Homo sapiens: one gene and its partners. The protein of the gene in region 1 purifies or fractionates together with the protein of each later gene. This does not show direct contact. Each region holds a gene or a part of one and is shown in the gene's direction. Other genes may lie near its edges. The genes, in order: SLC35F6, GALNT7, PCYOX1, SPTLC1, HSDL1, KDSR and OXA1L.

What was found.
Region 2: the proteins of SLC35F6 (region 1) and GALNT7 purify together in Homo sapiens (affinity purification with mass spectrometry; one large-scale study listed by BioGRID and IntAct). This does not show direct contact.
Region 3: the proteins of SLC35F6 (region 1) and PCYOX1 purify together in Homo sapiens (affinity purification with mass spectrometry; one large-scale study listed by BioGRID and IntAct). This does not show direct contact.
Region 4: the proteins of SLC35F6 (region 1) and SPTLC1 purify together in Homo sapiens (affinity purification with mass spectrometry; one large-scale study listed by BioGRID and IntAct). This does not show direct contact.
Region 5: the proteins of SLC35F6 (region 1) and HSDL1 purify together in Homo sapiens (affinity purification with mass spectrometry; one large-scale study listed by BioGRID and IntAct). This does not show direct contact.
Region 6: the proteins of SLC35F6 (region 1) and KDSR purify together in Homo sapiens (affinity purification with mass spectrometry; one large-scale study listed by BioGRID and IntAct). This does not show direct contact.
Region 7: the proteins of SLC35F6 (region 1) and OXA1L purify together in Homo sapiens (affinity purification with mass spectrometry; one large-scale study listed by BioGRID and IntAct). This does not show direct contact.

The regions. Positions count from the first base shown.
Region 1 is NC_000002.12:26,773,493-26,777,796, forward strand, and holds part of SLC35F6 (solute carrier family 35 member F6 precursor), read left to right. Parts: intron 1-758; coding exon 759-831; intron 832-1,551; coding exon 1,552-1,723; intron 1,724-1,971; coding exon 1,972-2,184; intron 2,185-2,879; coding exon 2,880-2,990; intron 2,991-4,304. UniProt on the Homo sapiens protein: Involved in the maintenance of mitochondrial membrane potential in pancreatic ductal adenocarcinoma (PDAC) cells. Promotes pancreatic ductal adenocarcinoma (PDAC) cell growth. May play a role as a nucleotide-sugar transporter.
Region 2 is NC_000004.12:173,311,617-173,315,920, forward strand, and holds part of GALNT7 (N-acetylgalactosaminyltransferase 7), read left to right. Parts: intron 1-2,341; coding exon 2,342-2,560; intron 2,561-4,304. UniProt on the Homo sapiens protein: Glycopeptide transferase involved in O-linked oligosaccharide biosynthesis, which catalyzes the transfer of an N-acetyl-D-galactosamine residue to an already glycosylated peptide.
Region 3 is NC_000002.12:70,271,108-70,275,411, forward strand, and holds part of PCYOX1 (prenylcysteine oxidase 1 precursor), read left to right. Parts: intron 1-3,851; coding exon 3,852-4,063; intron 4,064-4,304. UniProt on the Homo sapiens protein: Prenylcysteine oxidase that cleaves the thioether bond of prenyl-L-cysteines, such as farnesylcysteine and geranylgeranylcysteine. Only active against free prenylcysteines and not prenylcysteine residues within prenylated proteins or peptides.
Region 4 is NC_000009.12:92,052,706-92,057,009, reverse strand, and holds part of SPTLC1 (serine palmitoyltransferase 1), read left to right. Parts: intron 1-1,515; coding exon 1,516-1,605; intron 1,606-4,304. UniProt on the Homo sapiens protein: Component of the serine palmitoyltransferase multisubunit enzyme (SPT) that catalyzes the initial and rate-limiting step in sphingolipid biosynthesis by condensing L-serine and activated acyl-CoA (most commonly palmitoyl-CoA) to form long-chain bases.
Region 5 is NC_000016.10:84,121,437-84,125,509, reverse strand, and holds the end of HSDL1 (inactive hydroxysteroid dehydrogenase-like protein 1), read left to right. Parts: intron 1-781; coding exon 782-880; 3' UTR 881-3,369; downstream 3,370-4,073.
Region 6 is NC_000018.10:63,356,891-63,361,194, reverse strand, and holds part of KDSR (3-ketodihydrosphingosine reductase), read left to right. Parts: intron 1-1,402; coding exon 1,403-1,459; intron 1,460-4,304.
Region 7 is NC_000014.9:22,769,132-22,773,790, forward strand, and holds the end of OXA1L (mitochondrial inner membrane protein OXA1L), read left to right. Parts: intron 1-659; coding exon 660-803; intron 804-1,061; coding exon 1,062-1,147; intron 1,148-1,329; coding exon 1,330-1,494; intron 1,495-1,673; coding exon 1,674-1,778; intron 1,779-1,886; coding exon 1,887-2,049; intron 2,050-2,136; coding exon 2,137-2,217; intron 2,218-2,302; coding exon 2,303-2,427; 3' UTR 2,428-3,911; downstream 3,912-4,659. Other genes in the region: SLC7A7 (Y+L amino acid transporter 1), read right to left, coding at 4,479-4,585.

The DNA.
Region 1 (4,304 bases):
ACTCCATTAAGAAAAAAAAAAAAAAAAGACCAAGGATTACAAAAGAAGTCAATTAAATTGAAATACAGTTATCAAACACTTAAAAAAGCAAATTCGTGATATAGAATATATATAGATATGCTTTTTTTTTTTTTTTCTGAGACAGGATCTTGCTCCATCACCTAGGCTGGAGTGCAGTGGTGCAATATCGGCTCACTGCAGCCTCTGTCCCCCAGGTTCAAGTGAGTCTCATGCCTCAGCCTCCTGAGTAGCTGGGATTACAGGCTTGTACCACCACGCCCGGCTAATTTTTGTATTTTTAGTAGAGACGGGGTTTCACCATGTTGGCCAGGCGGTCTCGAACTCCAGACGTCAAGTGATCCACCCACCTCAGCCTCCCAAAGTGTCGGGATTACAGGCGTGAGCCACTGCGCCCAGCTATATAGAAATGCTTTCTACTACATTGTTATAAGTGGGTCTGACTACTGTAATGTTCATGAGTGATGAGTGTAAATGATACCTCACGATATATACAATGACTGTAATGTGATCATGAGAGTATCTGTGATTTCTGTGCATTACAGAGGCACAGACACAGTGACTTGAGGAAATGCCAAGTTAAAACTCCTTGAGGTGAAGACTGACCCCTTTGAGAGGGAGCCCCACTCTGGGGCCGGGTCACCCAGGTCTGGGCCTCTTGACATTGAGAGGTGTGAGCCTCTTCACTAGCACCAGGGTAGGATGCTGACAGGGTCTGACCTTCCCTCTCTCTCCTACAGATGGGCGGACAATTTCATGGCCGAGGGCTGTGGAGGGAGCAAGGAGCACAGCTTCCAGCATCCCTTCCTCCAGGTATCTGGCCCTGTCCCTCCTACCTCCTGTCTCCCGGGCCTCAGACCAGGCGCCACCCCCGGCCATGAGGCCAGGCTGTTTCCTGACTTAGGAGTGGAGGTGTCTCCTGCTCCCAGAAGAGCCATCCACTTCTCTCTTTCCCTCCCCAGAGCAGAATCCAAGGTTTAGAATAGGGCAAAGAGCACCATCCTCTGCGAAAGTCCTGGCAAGTGGTCATGTCCTCACCACATCCAAGTCAGGACACGTGGAAAACATCAGCCCTAGTGACAAAAGTCAGCTCTCTATCCACTGGGAGCCCAGACCCCAATTGGGACAGGGCAGACACCATAAATGGAAGACACTGTTCGTTGAACTGAGAATCAGGAGACTCAAATGTCAGCCCCAGCTCTACCAGCAACTTGCTTTGTGGCCTTACATAAGTCTTTGAGCCTCTCTTGGGTCTAGGCTTCTCCACCTGCGATTTGACTAGGGGTTGGCCTAGATGGATGGTTTTCAGACAGGGCTCTGCACAGCCTTAGGGTTCATCAGGATGTATGGGGGCTTTGGGGCAGACCTAGGAGGCTGTCTCTAGCCTCCATGGCAGCTCTGCATTTGTCTATTTTACATATTGGGGTTCTGGGTAAGCTCTTGTTTGACAAAAGTTTGCATTAAAAAAAATAGTTAAAGATGATCCCCGAGATCCCTTCCAGCTCTGAAGTCCTCGGGTTTTCATCCCTGCAGGCAGTGGGCATGTTCCTGGGAGAATTCTCCTGCCTGGCTGCCTTCTACCTCCTCCGATGCAGAGCTGCAGGGCAATCAGACTCCAGCGTAGACCCCCAGCAGCCCTTCAACCCTCTTCTTTTCCTGCCCCCAGCGCTCTGTGACATGACAGGGACCAGCCTCATGTATGTGGGTGAGTAACCAGGCCAGGCTGAGAAGGGCTCAGGGGAAGCTGTGGCTGAAGGGGCTACTGGTGAAACAGCCCTATCCCACCCACCTCCACTTCATCCCACCATTCCCCCAGACTTCACACGCACAGGCACACAGGCAGGACTGATCGAGCGCTTACTATGAGCTTGGCATGTCTATCACCAAAGACCCCTTAGTGACAGATGGCCTTCGCCTTGGGAAGCTAACTGTAATTTGTTTCTCCTTTCCTAGCTCTGAACATGACCAGTGCCTCCAGCTTCCAGATGCTGCGGGGTGCAGTGATCATATTCACTGGCCTGTTCTCGGTGGCCTTCCTGGGCCGGAGGCTGGTGCTGAGCCAGTGGCTGGGCATCCTAGCCACCATCGCGGGGCTGGTGGTCGTGGGCCTGGCTGACCTCCTGAGCAAGCACGACAGTCAGCACAAGCTCAGCGAAGTGATCACAGGTGCGGCCAGGGGCAGGGACACGGGGCTGCCCTATCCTGCCCTGTCCTCCTTGGGAGCCCAGCACAGACTCATACAAGCTCTGCCATGTGCCATATACCAAGCCCTGGGTGAGGTGGGTAGCTCTGGAGGTGATGGATAGAATGTAGGGAAGACTGCAAAGGGATGTGGCTCCACCAAGGATGAGTGGCAGGCCGGGCAGGGCGAGGGGCTGGCTTGTCCTTTGATACAGATGCAGACATGCAAACTACTGGATTTGGGAGTGGAAAGGAACAGGTGCTTACCAAGTGCCCAGCCTGGTGCTGAGCACTGTGTGTTCATCATCACAGTGACTCCCACAGGCCCCAAACGGATGCATCACAGCCCATTTTACAATGAAATGACTGTCCTGGGTCACTTAGGGTCAGGATCAACCAAGAAATGTCTATCTCAAAGCCTGTTGCTTCTTGAAAGACCTGCGTCATACCCCGTGGGGCAGCTCTTAGACACAGGCAGGCCTCTGGGGCCTTAGCCTGGCACTGCTGGCATGCCCCTCAGGAACCAGGGAATCAGGGACAGGCAGTGGTGACTGTGCCTATGAACTATAGGGGGCCCTGCAGAGGTCAGGGGCTGGCATGTTTGGTCGCTGTGGCCATGCTCTCCTGGCCCCCAGCCCCAGTGCAGCCCTGTTCTCATCTGGGTCCCTCCTTCCCCACAGGGGACCTGTTGATCATCATGGCCCAGATCATCGTTGCCATCCAGATGGTGCTAGAGGAGAAGTTCGTCTACAAACACAATGTGCACCCACTGCGGGCAGTTGGCACTGAGGGTGTGTGTGGGCACAGGGGCCTGGAAGGAGTGGGGTAGAAGGGAGCCTGGGGAGCTGAGCACAGGACAAGGTGCCAGGGTTCACTTGTGGGGGGTGAACTTCCTGCCCCGCCTTGCCTTCCAGATGTGTTTTGACAAGTCTTCTGACACCTGCTGTGTCAGGAACTAGAGGAGACCAAGGACAGAGATGAATGAGATGCAAGCCCTTCAGAGGAGGTGACCAGCAGGAAGAAAGGGCAGTCAGTGAATTCAAGTTTGGACCACTTGTGCTCAACTGATGTCTCATTGGCCATGCCTATCTGAGTCTCTCAGGGCAGGGAGGGTGGCATTCGAGCTGCAAATTTCAACAGGCAGTAGTAGGAGCAGCTCCAAACAGAGCAAAGGCACAGGGGACTGGATGTGAATTTGAAAACCAGTGAGGAATAATTTTGAGTGTGGCCAGGTGCGGTGGCTCATACCTGTAATCCCAGCACTTTTGAGAGACCAAAGCGGGTGGATCACTTGAGGTCAGGAGTTTGAAACCAGCCTGCCCAACATGGCAAAACCGTCTCTACAAAAAATACAAAAATTAGCTGGGCGTGGTGGCGCATGCCTGTAGTCCCAGCTACTCAGGAGACTGAGACAGGAGAATCGCCTGAACTGGGGGAGCAGAGGCTGCAGCAAGCCGAGATTGCGCCACCGCACTCCAGCCTGGGCAACAGAACGAGACTCCATCTCAAAAAATAATAATTTGAGTGCAGTATAGGTTTGATGTTGGGGAAATAATCAGGAATTAAGTAGGTCAGGGTCATGTCATTAGAGAACTTTACCATCAGGCAAGTAGATTTAGACTTTAAATGACGGAGGAATCACTGAAAGTTTTTGAGCAGGGAAGTAAGTATCAAAATTATGAGATTAGCAAGATACAGCTGCGCTTTCAAAGAATGTCCTGGGGGCTAGTGCCTGTTGGGGAGCAGCTCTTGTCTGGCCCCCGGTGAGCTAAGGGACTTAGGCAGAATGTGAATTAGCTATATCACTGAGCATGCAGTCTATTTCCACTCATTTCTGTTTTCTAGCAAGACCTTAATGAGTGAAGCAGTGCATGGACTTACCTTCTGGCGCAAGCTCCTTGTCACAGACCAGTAACACACTGAACTAGAAAGCTGTGTTTTTCCAAACTTGTGAAAATAATGTAGTCAGTTGCAGCTGGCAGTTCTTTTTTTAAATGAATAGAATTTTTAAATATCAGAGCATTGTATACTGTAAGGGTAATGTTTTTATGAGTGTGTGTGTGTGTGTGTGTCCATGAACCTGTGCACACGTGTACTGGGTCACA
Region 2 (4,304 bases), on another chromosome or scaffold:
AGAGTCACAAGGACAGTGTGGGCATGGGGGTGGGGGGTGGACTGGTGGTAAATCATTCATGGAGGATCCACCCCATGAACCAGTCACCATCCACCAGGCCCCGCCTCCAACATTGGGGATTATAATTGGTCCTGAAATTTGGGTAGGGACACAGATCCAAACCATATCAAGTGGTAATATCGTATGTTCTTTTATCATGCTGCTTATAACAGCTTTTTTTAAACCCATGGGCTTTTGTGACAACAATGCATCTAGGGGCATGTTCACCCTTTGATAGTTATCTTGTTGCCTAGAAAACATTTAATCTGAACACTAGGTATTTCTTTTTTGAATGTAAAACATGGGTCGGCCACATGGCTGACAGGCCAAATCCAACCCTTTTTAGTAAATCAAGTTGTATTAGAAGATAGCCACACTCATTTGTTTGTGTATTATCTACGGTTACTTTCTCACTACAATAGCAGAGTCAAATAGTTGCCACAGAGACTGTATAGCCCAAAAAGCCCAAGATACTTACTATCTGGCCCTTTATAGAGAATATTTGCTGATGCATGATGTACAAGATTAAGGGATTGAGTATTATTTTAGTTCATTTAGTGTTGCTACAACAGAACACCTGAGGCTGGGTAATTTATCAAGAAAAGAGGTTTATTTATTCACGATTCTGGTGGTTTGAAAATTCAGGCTTGGGCAGCTACATCTGGTGAGGGCCTTATGCTGCTTCAGCTCATGATGGGAAGCAGAAGGGGAATGCACATGTGCAAAGAGATCATCACATGGCGAGAGAGGAAGCAAGAGAGAGACCAAGGAAGCCAGACTCTTTAACAAACTACTCTTGTGGGAACGAATCCACTTCTGTGAGAGCAAGAACTCACCCCCTCACCTCCATAGGAGGCCATTAATGTATTAACAACCCAAACTCCTCCCAGCAGGCCCTGCCTCCCAGCATTGCCACATTGGGCATCACATTTCAACATGAATGTTGGCAGAGACAAATCACATGCAAATTATCACTCAAGTGTGTACCAATTTGGTCACATATATTCATGCAACCATTCATTCATCAATTAAAGCTTTAAAAGCTAGATATTTGTCAGCTATCACAGTGTCAGCATATTTTATTGCTCTATAGCTGCTTTTTCTTAAAGTGAACCAACTGGGGTCGGGGGCAATGGCTCACGCCTATAATATCAACACTTTGGGAAGCCAAGGCAGGCAGATTGCTTGAGGTCAAGAGTTCAAGACCAGTCTGGCCAACATGGTGAAACCCCATCCCTACTAAAAGTACAGAAATTAGCCAGGTGTGGTGGCGGGCACCTGTAATACCAGCTACTCAGGAGGCTGAGGCAGGAGAATCGCTTGAACCTGGGAGGCAGAGGTTGCAGTGAGCCGAGATTGCGTCACTGCACTCCATCCTTGGTGACAGAGTGAGACTCCATCTCAAAAATATATATTTTTTTTAAATTAAAGAAAGGAACCAACTGGGGAAAATACCCAGTCCATTTGGGGTTATAGTAAAATAGTTCTATTATAGTTATAACAGGATCAATAAAATCACCTGCAAAAATGTGTTTTATTAAACAGAGCTTTTGTTTCTCATGATGGTTTCTGAAATGATATTTTTTTCCCTACACTTATCAACAGAACGATTCTAATAGAAAGAGATTGTAGGCCAGGCACAGTGGCTCACACATGTAATTCCAACACTTTGGGAGGCTGAGGTGGGAGGATCTCTTGAGGCCAGGAGTTTGAGACCAGCCTGGGCAACAGAATGAGACTCCATCTACACAAAAAAATAACAAAAATTAGCCAGGTATAGTGGCATGTACCTATAGTCCTAGCTACTCGGGAAGCTGAGGTGAGAGGATCACTTAAACCCAGGAAGTTGAAGCTGCAATGAGCCAAGATTGCACCACTGCACCCTAGCCTGAATGACAGAGCAAGACCCCATCACAAAAAAAAAAAAAAAAGAAAAGAAAAGAAAGAGATTATTATAGGGAAAGAAGTACAGTGTCCAGCCAAGCTCTCATAAACTCTCTCTGAGATTCAATTTATTCTTCTGTTAGCAGAATAGAATACATTATCTCAGCATATATGATCTTCCAGCTCAGGGATATCAGGTTTTGTACAATACTTTTTACTTAAATACACATGATATTTTAATCCTTGGCAGATGACATATTAGAGTCATTAACTTGCATTTGTTGTTTAATTAAATGCCAGGTCCTGTTGAAATGAATTTGTTATGTGTAGGCCATTTTCATGTGTCTAATATAGGCTGTTTATGATATGACATTTGTATTTTTATAACGATATATATATATATATTTTTTTTTTACAGAATTATGTTAGAGTTGTGGAGGTTTGGTGGGATGAATATAAAGACTACTTCTATGCTAGTCGTCCTGAATCGCAGGCATTACCATATGGGGATATATCGGAGCTGAAAAAATTTCGAGAAGATCACAACTGCAAAAGTTTTAAGTGGTTCATGGAAGAAATAGCTTATGATATCACCTCACACTACCCTTTGCCACCCAAAAATGTTGACTGGGGAGAAGTAAGTAGTCACATCTCAAAATGTATGTGTTTGTAGACTGAGTTTGGGAGAAGGCAGAGAGAGGTGGAAATATGTAAGAGGGAAGTATTCTTGGGGAAAAGTTGGGGTAAAAACTGTCTGATAGGATCTACCACCTTTCCACTAAACAGCTATAGCTGCCAGACCAGCTGGCCACCATGCTGTCTCCTGGCAGCCTTTGCTCATTGGCCCCCTAGCCTGCAAGACATCCACTCTTCACTCCAGCTCCTGGCGCCTCCATGCCTCTTACTCCAACTCCCTTCCTTAACTAATTTCAATTTATCTTACTGCTCTCAACTTAGAGATCACCAATACTGAAAAGCCCTTCTTACTATTCCCCACTTCATCAAAAAGATGCAGTTCTATGTTCTTTCCAGGGGTTCTCACAACACCCAAAATCACCTATCTCCCAACCAGTCTGAGTGCTTCAGGACCTTGATCACTTGTGTCCAGGTGGACTGATGCAGGGACCCATATACAGTAGATACTCCAACAATGCTTTTCAAATGAATTAAAAATAATTAAAATCAGACAAAAGCACTTTGACAATCAGACATTGTCATTTCTTTGTTTATTCAAACTTGTCTTCAGACTCACTTCTGATTGCTCCCTGCAGCCCCGCTGTATGCCTCACAGGTACACTAAACCTGCCATGAACGTTCAAGTCTACATCCCTCTGCTTAATTATGTTCAGCAAATATTGGTTGAGGGCCTACTATGTGCCAGTCACTCTTCTAGACAGAAAACCAGAGAAGCAAAGTCGTTTTTCTCAGGGAACTGGCATGCTACCTGGGGAGAGAGACCAAAAAAGTCTGAGAAAACAAAAATGATAATGACAGATGGTGATAAATGATAATGACACATAATACTGTCAAGAGGACTTAAGGGCAGGGTAAGGAAAGCCTCTCTGAGGAGGTGACATTCGCTCTCAGATCTGAATGATAAAGAGTCAGCCAATCAGAGAGTGGAGATGAAGGGAAGCTGACCAACTGCGGAAGCATAGTTCATCTGGGAGTGGATTCCTTATGGGTTGGTGTGTGAAGGGATAAGGGCCAGAATGACATCGAGGTTGTTTTGAGTAGCTGATTAGGTGGCTGCTGAGATTGGGAAGATAGTAGGGGAGTGAATGGAGGGGGCAAGGCTTCTGTTGGTGTTCTGGGCATGTGAAGTACCTGCTAGGCGTCCAGGTAGAGCCATTAAGGCCTACTGATCATAGATTGTAGGTTGTATGATGCCAAAGTCCAGAAGAGAGGCCACTCTGGAGATGTGCATTTGGGGCCATCAGCAGGTAGGTCGTTTCATGGGACTGAATGAGGTCCCCGAGGGAGAAAACACAGATAGAGAAGAGAAGACTAGACCCATCCGTCAGAAACGCCAGCATTTAGAGTTCAGGAATAGAAGGAAAAACCAACAGAGGACACTCATGCTGCTCTCTCTGTACTTCTTGCTTTAATATACTTTTTCCCTATACTCTTATTTTACCTGTCCTATTACAGCAAATTATGTTTAACTCCAACTAGACCATAAGCCTTTCAACACACAGATCTCTCTCTGAGGGCCCAGACAAGTATATCCAACTGTATGCTTAACATCAGGACTTGAATGTGTAACAGGCATTTCAAACTCGACATAGCCTAAATTGAACTTCCTATCTCCTCCCCCCAACCCATCTTTGCTGATTTCTTGGTCAAAAACTTTGGAGTCTTCCATGAATCCTGTCTTTGTC
Region 3 (4,304 bases), about 43 Mb from region 1:
AGCTGGATGGAGTGCAGTGGTGTGATCACAGCTCACTGCAGCCTCAACCAGCGGGGCTGAAGTGATCCTCATGCCTCAGCTTCCTGAATAGCTGGGACTACAGGCATGCCTCACCATGCCTGGCTAATTTTTTTTTTTTTTTTTTTCTGTAAGTATTTTATTTATCACTGAAGAAAAAACACAGCAGCAAGTTCTGTGTTGGCTTCAATGAGACCAAATAGTTCATCTTTAACATAGCTACTGCGCTCCAAAATTGAAGTCAACACAGTCATTACTACAAATTACTTGTTGAAAGAATCTATCTTCAAAAGAAAGAAAATTAGGAAAGAGAATTTAAACGATTCCTCCAAACCATACATTTATAAATATTGTCATATTTAAAATGCTTGAAAGGCGTGAATTCTCCATTAATGGAAAAGCAGTTTGCTATTGGCAACAGAAAAAAACTCAGCGATAATTTACCAAATGCTTTAAAATTTAAAAGCTATACTGTTTGGATTCACACTTGCGCAGTAATCTTGTCATTACAACAACTGCAAATTGCTTTGTACTCACCTTCTCTCAAGTAAAATCTAAAGAAAACCCCACCGTATCCAATGTTTGTAATGTTTACTTCAAGTGAATCTAAAAAATTTCTAAATTTAGTTTATGGTAAATACCTCAAAATACCTAAAAATAGGTACGTATCAACCACTTAAGGGTGTGAAAATTGTTTCAGATTCACTGCTTTAAAGGGTCTTCAAATATATTTTCTTTAACAGAACCTTACTTCATTCCAAATTATTATCAGATATTTCAAAATAAAAAAAAAGTATCAGTTCTATACCAAGATAAAGGTGTTACTCAATACCTGAAGGTTCACATTTTAAATTTATTTTTTAGTTTTTCTTTTTTGTCAACAAATGATTGATGAAATAATGCAACACCCTTAAATTCCAGAAAATGGCATGGTTTTTCCAACCTCCTGTGGATATGGTGCATGATCAATCTATTATATAGGAGCCTGGCTAATTTTTAATTTTTTTTTTTTTTTTTTTGAGAGGGAGTTTCACTCTGTCACCAAGGCTAGAGTGCAGTGGCACGATCTCGGCTCACTGCAACCTCTACCTCCCAGGTTCAAGCGATTCTCCTGCCTCCACCTCCCAAGTAGCTGGTATTACAGGCATGCGCCACCATGCCCAGTTAATTTTTGTATTTTTAGTAGAGGTGGGGTTTCGCTATGTTGGCCAGGCTGGTCTCAAACTCCTGACCTCAAGCGATCTGCCCGCCTCAGCCTCCCAAAGTGCTGGGATTACAGGCATGAACCACTGCGCCTGGCTAATTTTTACATTTTGTGTACAGACAGAGTCTTGCTATGTTGCCCAGGCTAGTCTTGAACTCCTGGCCTCAAGGTATCCTCCTGTCTTACTCTGTCACCCAGGCTGGAGTATATTGGCTGGCTGTTCACAGGTGCAACCATAATGTACTACAGCCTTGTGCCCCTGGGCTTAAGTGATCCTCCCACCTCAGCCTCTTGAGTAGCTGTGACTACAGGTGCATGCTGCCTCACCTGGGTGCTGTTTTTTAGTAGTATTTATTCTGTTTTTTCATTTATTATTATTATTTTTTTGAGATGGAGTCTTGCTCTGTCATCCAGGGTGTAGTGCAGTGGTGTGATCTTGACTTACTGCAACCTCTGTCTCCTGGGTCAAGCAATTCTCATGCCTCAGCCACCTGAGTAGCTGGGATTACAGGCATGCACCACCACACCTGGATAATTTTTGTATTTTTAGTAGAGATGGGGTTTCACCATGTTGGCCAGGCGGTCTCAAACTACTGACCTCAAGTGATGCTGCCCCACTTTGCCTCCCAAAGTGCTAGGATTACAGGCATGAGCCACCATACCCAGCAGTGTATTTATTCTAATACGATTAGTTGTATCATGAAACAATTAGAGTGCTCTCTGTTTATATTGTGTATATAGTTTCATCTCACCGCTGCCACCCCGCCCCCTCCCAGGGAGACTTGCTTGAGTGAGGTTGCAGCTCTGGCAGGAGCAGTTGGGGAATATGTTTTTTATAGCATCATTAGTAGCTTATTTAATTGACTGTTATTTTCTCATGTTGACCATTAGCCAAAGATCACTCTTCTTTGGATATGAGATATCCAGGCTATTATTTTTCTGAAGAATTCAGTGTTTCCATCCTACTTTTTCCAGTCTCCTAAAGACTGGGACCCAAATGCTATGGTTAGAAGGTATTTAGTTTCTCAGTTTTGGCATAGATATCGAATCAGTTTTTCCAATAAAAATGTGTTTAACATTTTGTACACTTATACTACTACTATGCTTTTAGTAGGTAATACTGAAATGGTTATAATACTGTCCCTTGTTCTGTAAAAAAATATAGTACATTTTGAGAGAAAAACTTGATGTGAAAGTTTCCCTTCCATGATCAGTGATAGGGATCTTTCCTTGGCTCTTAATTTCTTATTTTCATATACTTATCTCTGCATGTGCCTTATTACTTATCCCTAACTATAAGCCCCTTAAGGGAATAAGAGATAAACCCCGTATTACTTATCCCAAACTTAAGCCTGTTTTCCATCTTTGTACTATTTGCAACATGAAAAATTGTGTTTGAATTACTGAATGCACTAATTTATGTGAATGTTGTTTTAAATCCATAAAATGCAGAGAAGTGTTGGGTGATATTTTTCTTTTTGGTCAAGTGATGTTTTCTAAAAAATAATAGAAAGCATCTAATTGTTGAATGAGTGGCATTGGTGCTAAGTTTTATGAGGCTTCTGGAGATGATATAACTGTGGACTGGGAAGTTGAGCAAGACTTTTCAGAGAAGGTGGGATTCAAGTTCTGTTAAGGAAGAATAGATGTTCCATGGTTAGGAATGGGAAGTGTATTCAGGTTGGAGGGAAGAGCTTGTGCACTGGTGGGGATACAGCATGTAGGGCAAATTTAGAGACCAGTGAATGGGTCAGGTGTGCTCCAGTGGAGACTGTGCATGTGTGGGTGATTGACAGCAGAGTGGGCAAGTTGTGATTGAGCCTTATACTTGCCATGTGGCCTTTAGACAAAGTATTTTACTTCTACTTTTTTTTTTTTTTTTTTTTGAGATGGAGTCTCGCTCTGTTGCCCAGGCTGGAGTGCAGCGGTGTGATCTCGGCTCACTGCAACCTCCGCTTTCTGGGTTGAAGCGATTCTCCTGCCTCAGCCTCCTGAATAGCTGGGATTACAGGCGTGCGCCACCAGGCCCAGCTAATTTTTGTATTTTTAGTAGAGACGGGGTTTCACCATGTTGGTCAGGCTGGTCTCAAACTCCTGACCTAGTGATCTGCCTGCCTTGGCCTTCCAAAGAGCTAGGATTACAGGCATGAAACCACCGCGCCTGGCCTTACTTCTACTTTTTATTTTTCCTTTTTCTTCTTCTTTCTTTCTTCCTTAGTTTCTTTTCTTTTTTTTTTTCTTTTTTTTTTTTTAAGAGACACTGTCACTGTCTGGCCCAGGCTGGAGTGCAGCGGCATTATCACAGTTCACTGCGGCCTTGAATTCCGGGGCTCAAGCAGTCCTCCTGCCTCAGCCTCCCAAGTAGCTGGGACCACAGGCATACACCACTATGCCTGGTTAATTTTTGTATTTTTAGTAAAGCTGGGGTTTTGCCATGTTGGCCAGGCTGGTCTTGAACTCCTGACCTCAGGTGACCTGCCCACCTCTGCCTCCCAAAGTGTGGGGATTATAGGCGTGAGCCACTGCACCTAGATGTCAGTTTGATTCTTATGACGCCACTTCCCTTCTTTATACATCCCCTTCCCCACATCTTGTTTGGTATTTAATGGATTTCTCTTCTTTTCCAAAGGATCTACCGCTACCAGTCTCATGACTATGCCTTCAGTAGTGTCGAAAAATTACTTCATGCTCTAGGAGGAGATGACTTCCTTGGAATGCTTAATCGAACACTTCTTGAAACCTTGCAAAAGGCCGGCTTTTCTGAGAAGTTCCTCAATGAAATGATTGCTCCTGTTATGAGGGTCAATTATGGCCAAAGCACGGACATCAATGCCTTTGTGGGTAAGCCAGGGCTTGAAACAGTGGTGGACATTAGTTCACAGAGGGGCTTACCTGATGCTATGGTGGTTCCTGACTTTAGGCTGTGGATTGGAGGCTACTTTTCTCTGTGAACCTCAGACATTGTTAGCAAAATTGTGCGTATGTAGATGTGCATTTTTAGGGGGAGAGGGTCTTTAGCTTTCATTAGTTCAGTAATTCTTAACTGGGGGAGATTTTGCTCCCAGGGGCCATTTAGCAATGT
Region 4 (4,304 bases), on another chromosome or scaffold:
AATCCTACATTGAATATTTTTAAATCTAAGAAAATGTTTTTCCTTAAAGACAGGCAGAGGTAGCATGCCCTGTGTAGAAATTAGGGTGGCATCTCTTCATCCATCACTTCTAACATATTGCTAGCTCCCCAGCTTTCAGTTGTGAGTTGACAGAGTAAAGATGATTGAGCAACATCAGTGATATGTACTTTTTATTCCTCAACAAACTTTTTTTTTAGTGCTACTGCTGTGGGTTGTAAAATACCCCTTAAAGCATTGCTCTGATACTTTCTAATTCTGATCATTTCTAATTGTCCATTGGAGCAGAAACTTAGAGGCAAGAGATCTCTGAGTAAGAAGGTAATGGCAAACTCTATCTGTGGATCTCAGTATTTTTTGCAGTCCCACACACCTGAACCATGTACAGTTTCATACATGTGGGAGATTTATTAGTGACTTGCTCTGAGCAGAGTGTGTGAAGGTGTGTGTTTTTTGAAAAGATCTCTGCCGGGCGTGGTGGCTCAAAGCTGTAATCCCAGCAGTTTGAGAGGCCGAGGTCAGTAATCAAGAGGTCAGGAGTTCAAGACCAGCCTGGCCAACATGGTGAAACCCCATCTCTACTAAAAATACAAAAATCAGCTGAGCGTGGTGGCGGGTGCCTGTAATCCCAGCTACTCGGGAGGCTGAGGCAGAGAATTGCTTGAACCCTGGAGGCGGAGGTTGCAGCGAGCAGAGATGGCGCCACTGCACTCCCACCTGGGTGACAGTGAGACTCCATCTCAAAAAAAAGAAAAGGAGACCTCTCTACCCCACCACCTGGGAACATCATTGGACAAGCTCATAGTCAAATTTTACTTGATCCGATAATACATCAGTGGGGAGTGAGGAGGGAACAGGGTTGCCCCTTTTTTTGGGAGGTGAAGGAAAACGGTTTGAGTTTTTTAACTTTTTGTTATGGAAAAATGCCAACATATAAGAAGGAAACACAGTGGTATAGTGAAGCCCCCTGTACCCTTCTCCCAGCTTTGTTATCAGCATTACATCATTCTTGTGCCATCTGTTCCTCACCCCATCTTCATGATGATGACCTTCATTATAGTTGTTTTGGGTAAAATTGACAGACATTGAATCACATGAATGCAGCCATACAATTTTGACCAGTGATTATACCCATGTAACCCAGGAATGTCAGCCCCATTATGATGTAAAACATTCCCATTTCTTTAGAAAGTCCCTTAGGCCCCTTCCCAGTTGGAGGTTTGGAGGGTTTTGTTTGTGTTTTAATATTCTCAGAGGGCCTAATTAGTTTGTGTGTGTGGCGGGTCACCTAGCTAATGCTGTGAGCTGAAAAACGTCTGAGAGAAGATAGTACTGTTGTTCATCTCAAAATAACCCATCACAAACACTGAGCTTTCAATTCATTCAGAATATTTTTTTAGGAATAAATCTTGTAAGGTGAAAGTGCTGGGGAATATGTAACAGATCTTGTCTTCAGAGTTACTGAAATGTAAGATGTCTGCTTTTTCTCTTTTAAAGAATCCTCGCAAGGCTCGTGTAACTCGGCGTTTCATTGTAGTAGAAGGATTGTATATGAATACTGGAACTATTTGTCCTCTTCCAGAATTGGTAAGCAACCATGTTCAGCTGTAATTTTAATATTTGGACTATTTGACAGATGTGCCTTTTGTTTATGACCGCTTTTAGTGTATAACGTCTGCGTTGCTTTGCGCATTAGGCCTCATAAGCATATTTTGCTCAGATCAGGGAAGAAGAACAACACTGAATGCCAGTGCTGGCCTTCAAAGAGTAATCAAGACTGCTCTGTTGCCCAGGCTGGAGTGCAGTGGTGTGAACACAGCTCACTGCAGCCTTACCCTCCTGGGCTCAAGTGATCCTTCCACCTTAGCTTTCTGAGTTAGCTGGGACTACAGGCACATGCCACCACACCTGGCTGATTTTTCCCTTTTTTGTGGAGTAGGGGTCTCACTGCGTTACCCAGGCTGTTCTCAAACTCTTGGGCTCAAGCGATCCTCCTGCCTCAGCCTGCCAAAGTGCTGGTATTACAGGTATGAGCCACCACACCTGGCCAAAACTTAGCTTTAGCTTTTTTTTTCTCCCCCGCAAGACAGTCTTGCCCTGTCGTCAGGCTGGAGTGCAGTGGCGCCATCTTGGCTCACTGCAACCTCCTCCCCGAGGTTCAAGCAGTTCTCCTGCCTCAGCCTCCCGAGTAGCTGGAACTATAGGCGTGCGCAGACACCCCCAGCTAATTTTTGTATTTTTAGTAGAGACGGGGTTTCACCATGTCGGCTAGGATGGTCTCAATCTCTTGACCTCATGATCTGCCCGCCTGGGCCTCCCAAAATGCTGGGATTACAGGCATGAGCCACTGAGTCGGCCATACGTAGCTTTTAAGATCCAGCTTTATTTAGGTGAAATCAACGTATAAAATACACCTACTTTAAGGGTAAAGTTTGATAAGTTTTGACAGATGTATATACATCTGTATCACTGCAGCCATCCACCACCACAGTCAAGATACGGAATATTTTTATGTAAGACAATGTTTATCCAGAAAGAAAACTTTATCCAGAAAGCTTCCTGATGCCTCTTGGTAGTGAGTACCCATGTTGGCCCCAGACAGCCATTAATCTACTTTCTATTCCTGTAGATTAGTTTTACCTTTTGTAGAATTGCATATGAATGAAAGCATAGCTTGCTTTTTTGTTTTTTTGTGTTTTGTTTTTTGTTTGAGATGGAGTTTCACTTATGTTGCCCAGGCTGGAGTGCAATGGCACGATCTCGGCTCACCGCAACCTCTGGCTCCTGGGTTCAAGTGATTCTCCTGCCTCAGCCTCCCAGGTAGCTGGGATTACAAGCATGTGCCACCATGCCCGGCTAATTTTGTATTTTTAGTAGAGACAAGGTTTCTTCATGTTGGTCAGGCTGGTCTTGAACTCCCAACCTCAGGTGATCCACCCTCCTTGGCCTCCCAAAGTGCTGAGATTACAGGCGTGAGCCACCACGCATGGCCAAAACTTAGCTTTTTAATAGTGAAAGCAGCATAACTGTTTTTAGAAACCATGACCATTGAGATTTCCTTTATTGAGGTGAAATTCACATAACACAAAATTAACCAATTTAAATTGTACAGGACAGTGACATTTATTACATTTACCATGTGTGCAACCATCAACTTTAGGTCAAAAACCTTTTCATGACTCACGAAGAAGACCTCAAACCCATTAAACAGTCACTCCCCATTTTCTTCTCCCTCTAGCTCCCAGCAACTACCAATCTGCTTTCTGTCTCTATGGATTTACCTTTTCTGGTTATTTCCTATAAATGGCATCATATAATATATGACCTTTTCTTTCTGGCTTCATTCACTTGATGTTTTTAAAGTTCATTAACATTGTATACCATGTATCAGTATTTCATACCTTTTTAATGCTGAGTTATAGTCCATTGCATGGATAATACCACGTTTTGTTTTATATGTTCATCCACAGATGGATATTTGGGTTCTTTCTACCTTTTTGCTATTGCAAATAGTGCTGTTGTGAACATTTGTGTACAGGTATTTGTTTGAATTCCTGTTTTCAGTTCTTTTATGTATATATCTAGCAGGGTAATTGCTGGATTATATGGTAATTCTGTGTTTAACTTAATAAGGAACTGACATACTGTTTTCAACAGCGATTGCACCATTTTACATTCCTATCAGCTATATACCAGGGTTACAGTTTCTCTACATCTTTGTCAGCACTTATATTTTCCAGGGTTTTTTGTTGGTTTGTTTTAGCCACCCTAGTGAGCATGAGGTAGTATCTCACTGTGGTTTTGATCCTGTTTCCCCCAAATGGCTAATGATGCTGAGCCTCTTTTCTTGTTTTTTTTTTTGTTTGTTTGTTTGTTTGGCCATGCGTATACCTTTGGAGACATATCTATTCAGGTGCTTTGCCCATTTTTTAAATTGGGTTGTTTTTTTGTTTTTAAAAGAATTCCTTGTATATTCTGGATACTAGATGTTTATCAGATACATGATTTGCAAATATTTTCTCCTATTTTGTGGGGGTTTGTTTCATTTATTTGATACTGTCCTTTGACACACAGTTTTTAAAAATTTTGATGATGTCCAGTTTATGTGTTTTGTTGTTGCTTGTGCTTTTGTGTTTTATTTTAAAATCTTTGTTTAATCTGGCCGGGCACGGTGGCTCACGCCTGTAATCCCAGCACTTTGGGAGGCCGAGGCAGGTGAATCATTTGAGGTCAGGAGTTCGAGACCAGCCTGGCCAACATGGTAAAACCCCGTCTCTACTAAAAAT
Region 5 (4,073 bases), on another chromosome or scaffold:
TGGTGGGTATTTGTTGGGATCGATTGGTGGGTATTTATTGTGATTGATTGGTGGGTATTGTGATTGGTGGGTATTTATTGTGATTGATTGGTGGGTAATGTGATTGGTGGGTATTTGTTGTGATTGATTGGTGGGTATTGTGATTGATTGGTGGGTGTTTGTGATTGGTAGGTATTTGTTGTGATTGATTGGTGGGTATTTGTTGTGATTGGTGGGTATTTGTTGTGACTGGTGGGTATTTGTTGTGATTGATTGGTGGGTATTTGTTGTGATTGGTGGGTATTTGTTGTGATTGGTGGGTATTTGTTGTGATTGGTGGGTATTTGTTGTGATTGATTGGTGGGTATTTGTTGTGATTGCTTGGTGGGTATTTGTTGTGATTGGTGGGTATTTGTTGTGATTGGTGGGTATTTGTTGTGATTGATTGGTGGGTATTTGTTGTGATTGCTTGGTGGGTATTTGTTGTGATTGGTGGGTATTTGTTTGATTGGTGGGTATTGTGATTGGTGGGTATTTGTTTGATTGGTGTGTATTGTGATTGGTGGGTATTTGTTATGATTGATTGGTGGGTATTTGTTGTGATTGGTGGGTATTTGTTGTGATTGGTGGGTATTTGTTGTGATTGATTGGTGGGTATTTGTTGTGATTGGTGGGTATTTGTTGTGATTGATTGGTGGGTATTTGTTGTGATTGGTGGGTTTCATGTGCTGGTCTGTGTACTTGTTCCTTCAGTGTTGATTTTGGGTTCTAACCTTACAACCTTTTTCTCTTTCATTTTTAGTTTCTTTTTGCACAGTATATGCCTGAATGGCTCTGGGTGTGGGGAGCAAATATTCTCAACCGTTCACTACGTAAGGAAGCCTTATCCTGCACAGCCTGAGTCTGGATGGCCACTTGAGAAGTTTTGCCAACTCCTGGGAACCTCGATATTCTGACATTTGGAAAAACACATTTAATTTATCTCCTGTGTTTCATTGCTGATTATTCAGCATACTGTTGATTCGTCATTTGCAAAACACACATAATACCGTCAGAGTGCTGTGAAAAACCTTAAGGGTGTGTGGATGGCACAGGATCAATAATGCCTGAGGCTGATTGACGACATCTACATTTCAGTGCTTTTTCCCTAAGCTGTTTGAAAGTTACGCTTTTCTGTTGTTCTAGAGCCACAGCAGTCTAATATTGAAATATAATATGATTTGTCAGGTCTTATAATTTCAGATGTTGTTTTTTAAGGGAAATTGACCATTTCACTAGAGGAGTTGTGCTGGTTTTTAAATGTGCATCAAGAAAGACTACTGAAAAGTATTATTTTGTAACTAAGATTGCTGGTACTATTAGGAAAAATCTGTGTGTATTGTATAGCTCTAGCTGTTTGACTATCTGTAATGAAAATGCTGCACTTCAACTGGTATTTCATTAGAGAACCGTGTGTGTGCGTGTGTGTGGTGCCTTTGAGCAACTTTATTTATGGTTACCATATTTTTAAAAAGATTTTTTGTCAGGGTGACTTAACATGGACTCTTATAGGGTATTAAAACAATCTAGATTATTCCTTTTCATCCTAAATAAGCCTACCAAATTTCATGCTGTTGGTTTGCCATGAATGATATTACTTCCTACATTATATTTGTGTTTTTTCAAATCTGCTATGGAATGAACTTATTCCTAGATTTGGATATGTAAGAGAAACCTGCAGTCATCTTTTGATTTATAAGGCAATTCTTGTGGATAAATAGTGATTTCTCAGCCTCTGACCCATTTTATAACTGAAATTTAGCCCTTTAGAGCTTGTTATATCTGGTTTTCCTACGTTTTTCTATGTAATATTATTCCATTCCAGTAGCATTATTGATAGAAATAGTAAGTATTTATGGAATAGTAAAATATGGACAAATTACGTGTGTGACATATCTGTCAATATAAGTTAGAAGCTTATTCTTGGTTTGTGTAATGAATTTATGTATTGTAGTGAATACCTTTACTGGTGTGAAGATAATTATGCACAAACCCTCACAATACGCGTTAACATTGAAACCTGTGAAATGTCCTTAGTTTGGGTCATATAAAGCCAACCATTTTTGAGGACCATGTACCTAGTGCTTTGAAAACTCTAAGTCACTATATGAATATGACAATATGTGCACATTTAAAATTCAGAGCTCGGCATTGTGATACTGATGCAGAAGCTAGTAGATTGGTTAAAAGTCTGGACTTCTGTGGCATTTTTTTCGTGACGTGATAATCTATCATAAGCAGACCTAAGCACAGTTTTATGAACACAATTTTGCCCATGACATTGCCTACAGGATTTCCAGATGTGACTTGCACTCAGAAGATCAGTGGTCAACTTCAGAAGCTCTTCCACGCTTAGATCATGTCTTCAGAACTTAGATGTGAAAATCTACACACTGGGAGATGCTGTGAGCCCCAAGGTTTTGATGGAGTTTGCTTGGAATCCTCTTGACTTCATGCCACATTGACGTGAACTTTGATGTATAATAAGCAGCAGCAACTTCATGTGAAAATATGGTCAGGTAGTTATATGTAAGGTTACGTGGTCCAGTAATGTCTTAGATTGATAAATTAGGTATGGAATCCATCAGTGTTACGTGATGAGAATAGGTGAACACACCTTGTCAGTGATGATGTAAACTTCTCTCCTTGGCAGGACATGGGCAAACATGCTGATTGGTGCAAATGTGGTGCCGAGCTGTCCATAGCTGCAGTGAAAGATGAAGAGCAAGACCTTCTCTAGGTTTTCTAGCTTTCATTAAATGTATTTTTTTCCCCAGAGCTAATTTGAAAGTTGATTGGACCACTGTGGATGGGGTGTCATTAAGAATGTGGGAAATAGGGGCCGAGTGCGGTGGCTCACACCTGTAATCCCAGCAGTTTGGAAGGCCAGGGCAGGTGGATCGCTTGATCCCAGGAGGTCGAGACCAGCCTGGGGAACACATCCTGTCTCTACAAAAAATACAAAAATTAGCCAGGCAGGGTGGTGCATGCCTGTAGTCCCAGCTACTTGGGAGGCTGAGGCAGGAGAATTTTTTGAGCCCAGGATGCAGAGGTTGAAGTGAGCCAAGATCGTGCCACTGCACTCCAGCCTTGAGACAGAGCGAGACCCTGTCTCAAAAAAAAAAAAAGAACGTGGGAAATATGAACCTTTGAAAGTTAATCTGTGAATTGAAAGTTTAACAATAAAAGTAGTTGTTTGTTTCCTTTGGAAGAGTTTTGTTCCAGATGTTTGTAATTTGGTTGTTTGTAATTTGGAATGAGAGAATTTTTTTTTCTTAGGAGTGATTGCAAGAAATTAACATGAACAACAGTGGTCATAACTGATTAAAAGCTGACACGTCAGTAACAAAATTGTTTATAACTATGTGCCTAGTCTTTGGAAGCTACTGGGTTGACTTCTGGATCTCTTTCTCTTGGTAGGTTGAGTAAGGTGAGGATTGATTTGAGCATGGAATTTGGCTGTGTGGATGGAGATCATTGGTGATTTTTTTCCATGAGCCATTTCAGTCTTCAGGCTAGAATTGTAATGGATTCAAGAAAGAGTGGGAAGAAGAAAAAAAGGGAAGAGAGCAGATAGAGACAGCTCCTAGGAGACTTTCCTGTGTTTTCCTATCCTCAATTACTTAAAATCTAATCACATTTGGGAACCAGAGGGTTAGATGGTTATGTCCTCAAAACCTATTCCAGTCAATTTATGTCTCAGTCTCAGTATTGGCTTATGTGTTATTTATCTTTTTAAAAATTCATATATGTTTAATGAGTATAAAGCCAAGCACAGGACAGTCGTGAATTCAGTAGAAATATTCTCTGTTATTCCTGGCCGCGTGCAGTGGCTCACGCCTGTAATACCAGCACTTTGTGAAGCCGAGGCGGGCGGATCATGAGGTCAGGAGTTTGAGACCAGCCTGACCAACGTAGTGAAACCCCGTCTCTACTAAAAATACTAAAATTAGCCGGGCGTGGTGGCGCGCCCCTGTAATGCCCGTTGCTCAGGAGGCTGAGGCAGGAAAATCACTTGAACCCGGGAGGCGGAAGTTGCAGTGAGCTGAGATCGC
Region 6 (4,304 bases), on another chromosome or scaffold:
TCTGTAACCCAGGCTGGTGTGCAGTGGCGCTGTCTTGGCTCACTGCAACCTCCACCTCCGGAATACCTGGGATTACAGGTGTGTGTAACCACACCTGGCTGATTTGTGTGTGTGTGTGTGTGTATATATATTTACATATATATAAAATATATATTTTTATTATATATATTATATATTTTATATATATATATATTTTTTTTTTAGTAGAGACAGGGTTTTACTATGTTGGCCAGGCTGGTCTCAAACTCCTGACCTTAAGTGATCCACCCACCTCGGCCTCCCAAAGTGCTGGGCTTACAGGCGTGAGCCACTGCGCCCGGCCTCACTGTGTCACCCAGGCTGGAGTGCAGTGACACAATCTCGGCTCACTGCAACCTCCGCCTCCCAGGCTCAACCAATCCTCTCACTTCAGCCTCTTGAGTATCTGGGACCACAGGTGCTCGCCACCATGCTTGGCTAAGTTTTTGTATTTTTGGTAGAGACGGGGCTTCACCATGTTGCCCAGGCTGGTCTCAAACTCCTGAGCTTGGGTGATCCACTCACCTTGGCCTCCCAAAGTGCTGGGATTACAGGGGTGAGCCACCATGCCTGGCTGAGAAATTCTTTCTTTTCTAATGTAATTTTTAATTCCAGTCTTTGCAAAGTCAAGCTGTATGTATCTTTAGTCATAGGACAATATTATTTCATTATAGACATATTCAGGTTTAGAAACTCTGCATGCCTTTTGGAAGAATTCGCCTCTCCTTTGGTTCCTCTCTATTGCATGATATTATTTAAGTTACTTTTTACAGCAAATTAAGATAATCTGATATCTGTTTTCTTGAGACTAAGTAAAACAAACAAAATTAGGACCTTGGAAGAATTACATAATTACACAGGTAACCTTGCTTAAGAGTATTTTATAGTAGCCAGGCCTAGTTTACCCAGTCTATCCAGAAAGTGATTCTTACTATGTTTGGGTTTATAGTAGAAGAAGAAAATATTGGACAAAAAGCAGTATTGACAGGGAGTCACACATACCCTCAACTTTGGGGAGCAGTACATATTAATAGAGTTGTTCTTGTCTTATATCACAACTAAATAATAAGACATTTATTAGAACTGTAGAGTCAGCCTCAGCAATTAGTACTGTTAACTGGGATTTTGAGGTTTATCTGTTTTCTACTATCTTTCTCTAATTAATTTTCAAACTTTTATCACTTATTCATAGCTTAACATACTTCACAACTTCTTTCTTTCATAGGCTGTGGCCCAGTCTGTCTATGCAATGTAGATACTGTTTTGTGTGTTTTCTGGAATTTAATACATACATATAGAAATAATTGCTTTTTTTCTCTCCTTTGCAATAAACGGACATGCATATAGACGGTCATCACGACTAATTATTCTGTATTGCTTTCAGGATAAGCTGCTGCAGGCAAAGAAAGAAATTGAAATGCACTCTATTAATGACAAACAGGTAAATCTCTGTCTTCAGAATGCATTTTCTGTATAACTCAGCACAGCTGTATAAAGGAAAAACAGAGTTACTTCACCTGTGAATAGTTAATTGAAAGCATATATGTACTGTTTTTTAAAAGGTGGAATTGTTTGAATGGTCTAGTAACTCAGAATATCACACACACGCAAAATGAATAGACTCCCACACACATTCATATCTACAAATGGTCAAATAACAGAATGTTTTACTGGCAAATAATTTCATTTTAATTTTTTTTTTAATGAACTTTATACAAATGCTTAAGAGGAAAGGAATATTTAAAATTTATTTGGTTATGGAATTTTTGATGAATAAAATGCTATTTATATTTCAGTATAAAACATAATAGCAAATTAATAATCACACACCCATCACCCAGCCTAAGAAGTAGAAATGATCAGGGTCTCTGAAGCCCCCACAGCAGCCTTGTCCCTCTTTTCTTGTTCCTAGAGGGGCAAATGCCAACCCGATTTTTGGTGTTAATCCTTTCTTTTTCTTTTCTTTTTTCTTTCCTTTTTTTTTTTTTTTTTTTTTTTGAGGCAGTGTCTCAATCTGTCATCCAGGCTGGAGTGCAGGGGTGCGATCTCAGCTCACTGCAGCCTCGACCTCCTGGGCTCAAGCAGTCCTCCCACCTCAGCCTCCCTAGTAGCTGAGATTATAGACACGTGCCATCATGCATGGCTAATTTTTGTATTTTTGGTAGAGATGGGGTTTCGCCATGTTGCCCAGGCTGGTCTTCAACTCCTGGGCTCAAGCAGTCCGCCTACCTCTGCCTCCCAAAGTGCTGGTATTATAGGAGTGAGCCACTGTGCCCTGCCTCTTTTTCTTTTTAATTTTACCATATATGCACATAACTCTAAATAATAATATATTGTTTAGTTCTTTTTTTTTTTTTTTTTTGAGACAGAGTCTCTCTCTGTCACCCAGGCTGGAGTGCAGTGGTGCCATCTTGGCTCACTGCAACCTCCACCTCTCGGGTTCAAGCGATTCTCCTGCCTCAGCCTCCTGAGTAGCTGGGATTACAGGTGTGTGCCACCACACCCGGCTAATTTTTTTTGTATTTTTAGTAGAGACAGGGTTTTACCATGTTTGTCAGGCTAGTCTCAAACTCCTGACCTCAGGTGATCTGCCTGCCTTGGCCTCCCAAAGTCCTGTGATTATGGGCGTGAGCCACCATGCCTGGCCAATATACTTAGTTCTACTTCTTTTATTATATCATTCTTATTTTTTAACAGCTTTATGAGATATAATTTATATACCATACAGTTGACCCATTTAAAATATATAATTCAATGATTTTTAATGTATTCATAGAGTTGTGCAACTGTCATCAAAATCAATTTTAGAATGTTTTCCTCACCCCGTGAAGAATCTCCATGTGTATTAGCAGTCACTTGCCATTTCCTCCCAGCCTCTTCTCAGCTAGGCAGTCACTCATCTACTTTCTTTCTCTATAGATTTGTATAACTTCCTTCTTTATGCTTCTTATGCAACTTGATTTCTTCACTCAATATTATTATTATTTATTTCTTATTTATTTATTTATTTTTGAGATGGAGTCTCGCTCTGTTGCCCAGTCTGGAGTGCAGTGGCACAATCTCAGCTCACTGCAACCTCTGCCTCCTGGGTTCAAGCCTCAGCTTCCTGGGTAGTTGGGATTACAGGCGCGCGTCACTACGCCCAGCTAATTTTTGTATTTTTAGTAGAGACAGGGTTTCACCATGTTGATCAGGCTGGTCTCGAACTCCCAACCTCGTGATCCGCCCGCCTCAGCCTCTGAAAGTGCTGGGATTACAGGTGTGAGCCACCATTCCCAGACCACTCAATATTATTCTTTAGGCCAGGTGCGGTGGCTCATGCCTGTAATCCCAACATTTTGAGAGGCCGAGACGGGCAAATCAGTTGAAGGTAGGTGTTTGAGATCAGCCTGGACAAAGTGGTGAAACCCTGTCTCTACTAAAAATATAAAAAGTTAGCTGCACCTGTAACCCCAGCTACTCAGGAGGGAGGCTGAGGCAGGAGAATCACTTGGATCTGGGAGGCAAAGCTTGAGGTGAGCAGAGATTGCACCGCTGTACTCCAGCCTGGGTAACAGAGGGAGACTCCATCTCAAAAAAAAATATATATATATATATATATATATGTATGTATGTATGTATGTATATATATGTGTATATATATATATAATTTTAAAAATTCATTTATGTTGCTGCAAAAAGTTGGAGTAAATTTTTTTTTTTTTACTGCTGCGTAGTATTCTATTGTATGTATAGACTACATTTTGTTCATCAGTTCAGCAATTGGTGGATATTTAGTTTGTTCCCAGTATTTTTGTTAGTTTGTTTTGTTTTTTACTATTAGAAAAGCTTTCAGTATTCTCTTTGTGCACGTGTGCAAGAATGGTACATACCCAGAAATGGAATTGCAGAGCTGTAGTGTATGCAGTTCTTCAACCTCACCAAAGTGGTTAAGCTCCCATAAGTAGGAATGCGGTTTCTGTTGCGCCACATCCCTGCCAATACTTGGTATTGACAGACTTTTTACTTTTTGCCTTTCTGATGAGTTTTGAATAGTATTTCACTGTGGTATTCATTGACTTTTTCCCTTCTAGAATGTTAGAGATCTTTCCATGTGCATTAAGTAAATTTGCCTTAAATTGCTGCAGCCTAGGATTGAAGTACACCAGAGCTTATTCCGTCAGGTCCCTGCTATTGAGCTGTTTCCATTCTTTTTATTTTATTTTGTATTTTTATTTTTGCAATTGCAGTCTGTGCTGCAAGTAAAAATCCTTGTGTATATCTTCTGCACATGTGAGTTTTTCTCT
Region 7 (4,659 bases), on another chromosome or scaffold:
AGTCACCCTGTTGTGCAATCAATAGTAGATCTTATTCTAACTTTTTTTTACCCATTAACTATTCCCAACCCTGACTACCCTTCCCAGCCTCTGGTACCTTCCTTCTACTCTCTGCCCATGATTTCATTTGTTTTGATTTTTAGATCTCACAAATAAGTGAGAACATGGCGATGTTCGTCTTTCTGTGCTTGCCTTATTTCACTTAACATAGTGATCTCCAGTTCCATCCACGTTGTCACAGATGACTGGGTTTCATTCTTTTGATAGCTGTTACTTAAAAGACTGCTCTGCATCCAATTAGCCTACTTCTTTCCATTTACTCCCTCAGCCGTCTGGCTTTTACTCATATCACCTCATTCGAACTGCCAGTAACATAATTGCTAAATCCACTCCTGTCAGCTTTTTGTTTGAGGAAACAAACAGGATTCCTAATCATCTGCTTAGAGAAGTTAATGCCATACTTTTGTGATGCCAAATTAGAGAACTGAGCCTTAAAGCAACTAATTCATTCCCCTGACCTTATTTCTGGGCCTCTTAGGCATGAGTCATAGAATGGACAAGGCAAGAATAAGACCCTTTCAGTAAGGACCTAAAAGCCTTCAACCTTCTAGCTGCAGAACTGCTTTAATTTCACTCCAATCCTAGTTTGTATTTTCCAGGTACAGTCTTTGCCCGCTGCCTGATTTTTCCTCTCATCGTGACGGGCCAGCGAGAGGCAGCCAGGATCCACAATCACTTGCCAGAGATCCAGAAGTTTTCCAGTCGAATCAGAGAGGCCAAGTTAGCAGGAGACCATATTGAGTGTGAGTCAGTTGCAGAATGAGCGTGGGAGAAGTCCACATTTGCACTTTTCCTTACATTCTGCTGGGGGAAAGGAACAATGTAAATCAGAAGTTGCCACAGTCGGGAAAGTTCTAAAGGTTTATCTGTTTCTTAGACCTAATGCTCCCAAGGAGTGGCCAGGGTTGGTTAGAAATTTCACAGGCCAGGTAGATAATGAGGATGTTCACCTCCACTGATGTAACTGTTACCCCAACCATTAATTTCCCCTCACCTCACAGATTACAAGGCTTCCTCGGAGATGGCACTTTACCAGAAAAAACATGGTATTAAACTCTATAAACCTCTCATTCTCCCTGTGACTCAGGTGAGCAAAAACATTTCCTTCCTTATTTCATCCAGTACCCATGAAATTTCCTCTCTGTGTTTCATGTGTCCCAGGTCCCCCAAAAAACAGGTGGTGGTGGATTATACATGGCTTTCAGTAGTGGGGTGATGAAAATGTTCTCTCTGGTAAAGCATGCTGACACTGTTTATCTTGTGTAATAGGCCCCAATCTTCATCTCCTTCTTCATTGCTTTGAGAGAGATGGCCAACCTTCCTGTGCCCAGCCTGCAGACAGGTGGCCTCTGGTGGTTCCAGGATCTCACGGTATCCGATCCCATCTACATATTACCACTGGCAGTCACTGCTACAATGTGGGCTGTTCTTGAGGTAAGCCCAGATTGGCCAAGTGCCAGGCCTGCAAAGTGAACTGGGGTTGGAGGGTAAAGTAGTTGTACAGAATGGTCATCCTTCACTTGCTGGAGAAAGAGTTGATGGGTAAGAGATTAGAGACAGATTCACTGAAACTGACAGCTTTCCCGACTTTTCCACCCCACTTCTTTTGGCAGCTAGGTGCTGAGACAGGTGTGCAAAGTTCTGACCTTCAGTGGATGAGAAATGTCATCAGAATGATGCCCCTGATAACCTTGCCCATAACCATGCATTTCCCCACGGTATGTAATGCCTTATGGGCTGGCTCCAAGGCCTTCTGCCTAGCCTAGCCACCTAGCAAGCTGACCAGGGATACAGCTTCTGAGTCCCTTCTCTGTGTTCTCACCCAGGCAGTGTTTATGTACTGGCTCTCCTCCAATTTGTTTTCCCTGGTCCAAGTATCCTGTCTCCGGATTCCAGCAGTACGCACTGTACTTAAAATCCCCCAGCGTGTTGTACATGACCTGGACAAATTACCTCCACGGGAAGGCTTCCTAGAGAGCTTCAAAAAAGGTAAGGGCTCATCCTCTGTGAAAAAGGACTAGGGAAAGGGGTCTAAAAATAGGAATGCAACTGACTCTCTTGCTTCTCTTTACACAGGCTGGAAAAATGCTGAAATGACGCGTCAGCTGCGAGAGCGTGAACAACGCATGCGGAATCAGTTGGAGCTAGCAGCCAGGGGTAAATAGTCCTTTCAGGCCAAATTCTGTCTTTTGTTTCTTCCTTTCTGTTCTTCGTTGAAATTTGTTTTCTCTTCTCCCCTCAGGTCCTTTACGACAGACCTTTACCCACAACCCTCTCCTACAACCTGGAAAGGATAACCCTCCCAATATCCCTAGCAGCAGCAGCAAACCAAAGTCAAAGTATCCCTGGCACGACACACTTGGCTGACTTATGTTCTGTGCGCATTCTGGCAGGAATTCTGTCTCTTCAGAGACTCATCCTCAAAACAAGACTTGACACTGTGTCCTTGCCCCAGTCCTAGGAACTGTGGCACACAGAGATGTTCATTTTAAAAACGGATTTCATGAAACACTCTTGTACTTATGTTTATAAGAGAGCACTGGGTAGCCAAGTGATCTTCCCATTCACAGAGTTAGTAAACCTCTGTACTACATGCTGCTTCCTGATACTTATTGAACAGGGAAATCAGTGTGCACTTCAGAAAACTGAAGAATACCCAGCATTTTGGGAGGCCGAGGTGGGTGGATCACCTGAGATCAGGAGTTTGAGACCAGCCTGGCCAACATGGGGAAACGCCATCTCTGCTGTTTTACAAAAATAGCCACACGTGGTGGTGCACACCTGTAGTCCCAGCTACTCGGGAGGCTGAGGCAGGAGAATTGCTTGAATCCGAGAGGCGGAGGTTGCAGTGAGCCAAGATCGCACCACCGCACTCCAGCCTGGGCAATAGAGGGAGACTGTCTCAAAAAAAAAAGAAAACTGAAGAATAGAGTGAGTCATGATTGCTTTTGCTGGCCCATGGCCTTGGAAAATATAATGTTTTAACCTGGCATTAAGGGTTTAAACTTCCACCCAGGCGCAGTGGCTCACGCCAGTAATCCCAGCACTTTTGGGAGGCCAAGGCGGGCGGATCACGAAGTCAGCAGATCGAGACCATCCTGGCCAACATGGTGAAACCCCGTCTCTACTAAAAAAAAAAAAAAAAAAATTAGCCGGGCATGGCGGCGGGTGCCTGTATTCCCAGCTACTTGGGAGGCTGAGGCAGGAGAATGGCGTGAACCCAGGAGGCAGAGCTTGCAGTGAGCCGAGATTGCGCCACTGCACTCCAGCCTGGGCAAGAGAGTGAGACTCCTTCTCAAAAAAAAAAAAAAAAAAAAAAAAAAAAAAACAGTTTAAACTTCCAACCCATGCATGTGTTGTTCTATGCACATTTGGATTGCAGTCTAGAGGTGTGGCTGATAAGTTGAATGTTGAGATTGTATCTAAATATAGTAACCGCACTTCTTGATCCCAAGATTACTTTAAAAATTTCAAGAAGTAGATGTGTGCAAATTCTTAGTGATAATTAAGAATGAAAGTTCCAGGCTGGGCAAAGTGGCTCACACCTATAATCTCAGCACTTTGGGAGGCTGAGGTGGGTAGATCACTTGAGTCCAGGAATTTGAGACCAGCCTGGGCAACATGGCGAGACCTTGTCTCTGCTAAAAAGTTAGCTGAGCATGGTGGTGCTTGTCCATAGTCCCAGCTACCTGGGAGGCTGAGGTGGGAGGATAGCTTAAGCCCAGGAGGTTGAGGCTGCAGTGATCCAAGATCATGCTGCTATACTCCAGCCTTGGCTACAGAGCAAGATCCTGTCTCAAAAAGGAAGTTCATGTCATTTTTATGTAACAATCCAACATTTGACTAGAGCAGTTTAAGTGTTCTGTTGTCTGCCTTTGTGTAGAGCCTGGTTTATCAGCCTTCAGCAGCTAGCTTGAGAGAGAAAAGATGGATATACTTTCAAGCATAAGATTGATTTTAGTCTTTGTGTTTCTAGGCTAATGGGAGCTGTCCTAGAGATAGATACTATATAAAATGAAGCCACTCAGACTTTAGGAACATAAACTTTTATTGTCATCCAGCACCTGTGATAGTTTCATGTCTCTCTAAAGGAGACAGGAAATTGGAGCATTGTGGGCCCTTTTAAAAGAAAAGAGGAGTAGGTAGGCACACCCAGGTGCTTCTAAAACAACCAAGCCCAAACCTGACATGCTCCTCCCCACAGTCACCTTCATTGTCCCCTTTAAAAGTCTGGAACAGTATGTAGCAAAACAAATAAATTACTTTTCATTTCAAAAAGTAAGTTCAAAGGTTGAAGCTGCCTAGGCCAGGCTTCTGGACAGGTGCCTCCAAAGAAGTGAGCTTTCCTTTTCAACTTCCTTAGCTCTAGCCAGTAGACCAGAAACCCCTGCTTTCCACATCAGGATTCCAGATGGTGTTTAGTTAGATTTGGGATCCCGTTGCTTGGGCATCTCTCCTCCATCTTCCAAATCCATTTCTGCAGCAACTGACATACACAGGACCTGGAGGTACCTTGTGGCAGACCCTACAAAGAGAACTTTGAGTTGGAATTGAGAAGAGGTCAGCTGGGCTGAGTTCAAGTGTCACTGAATGGAACTC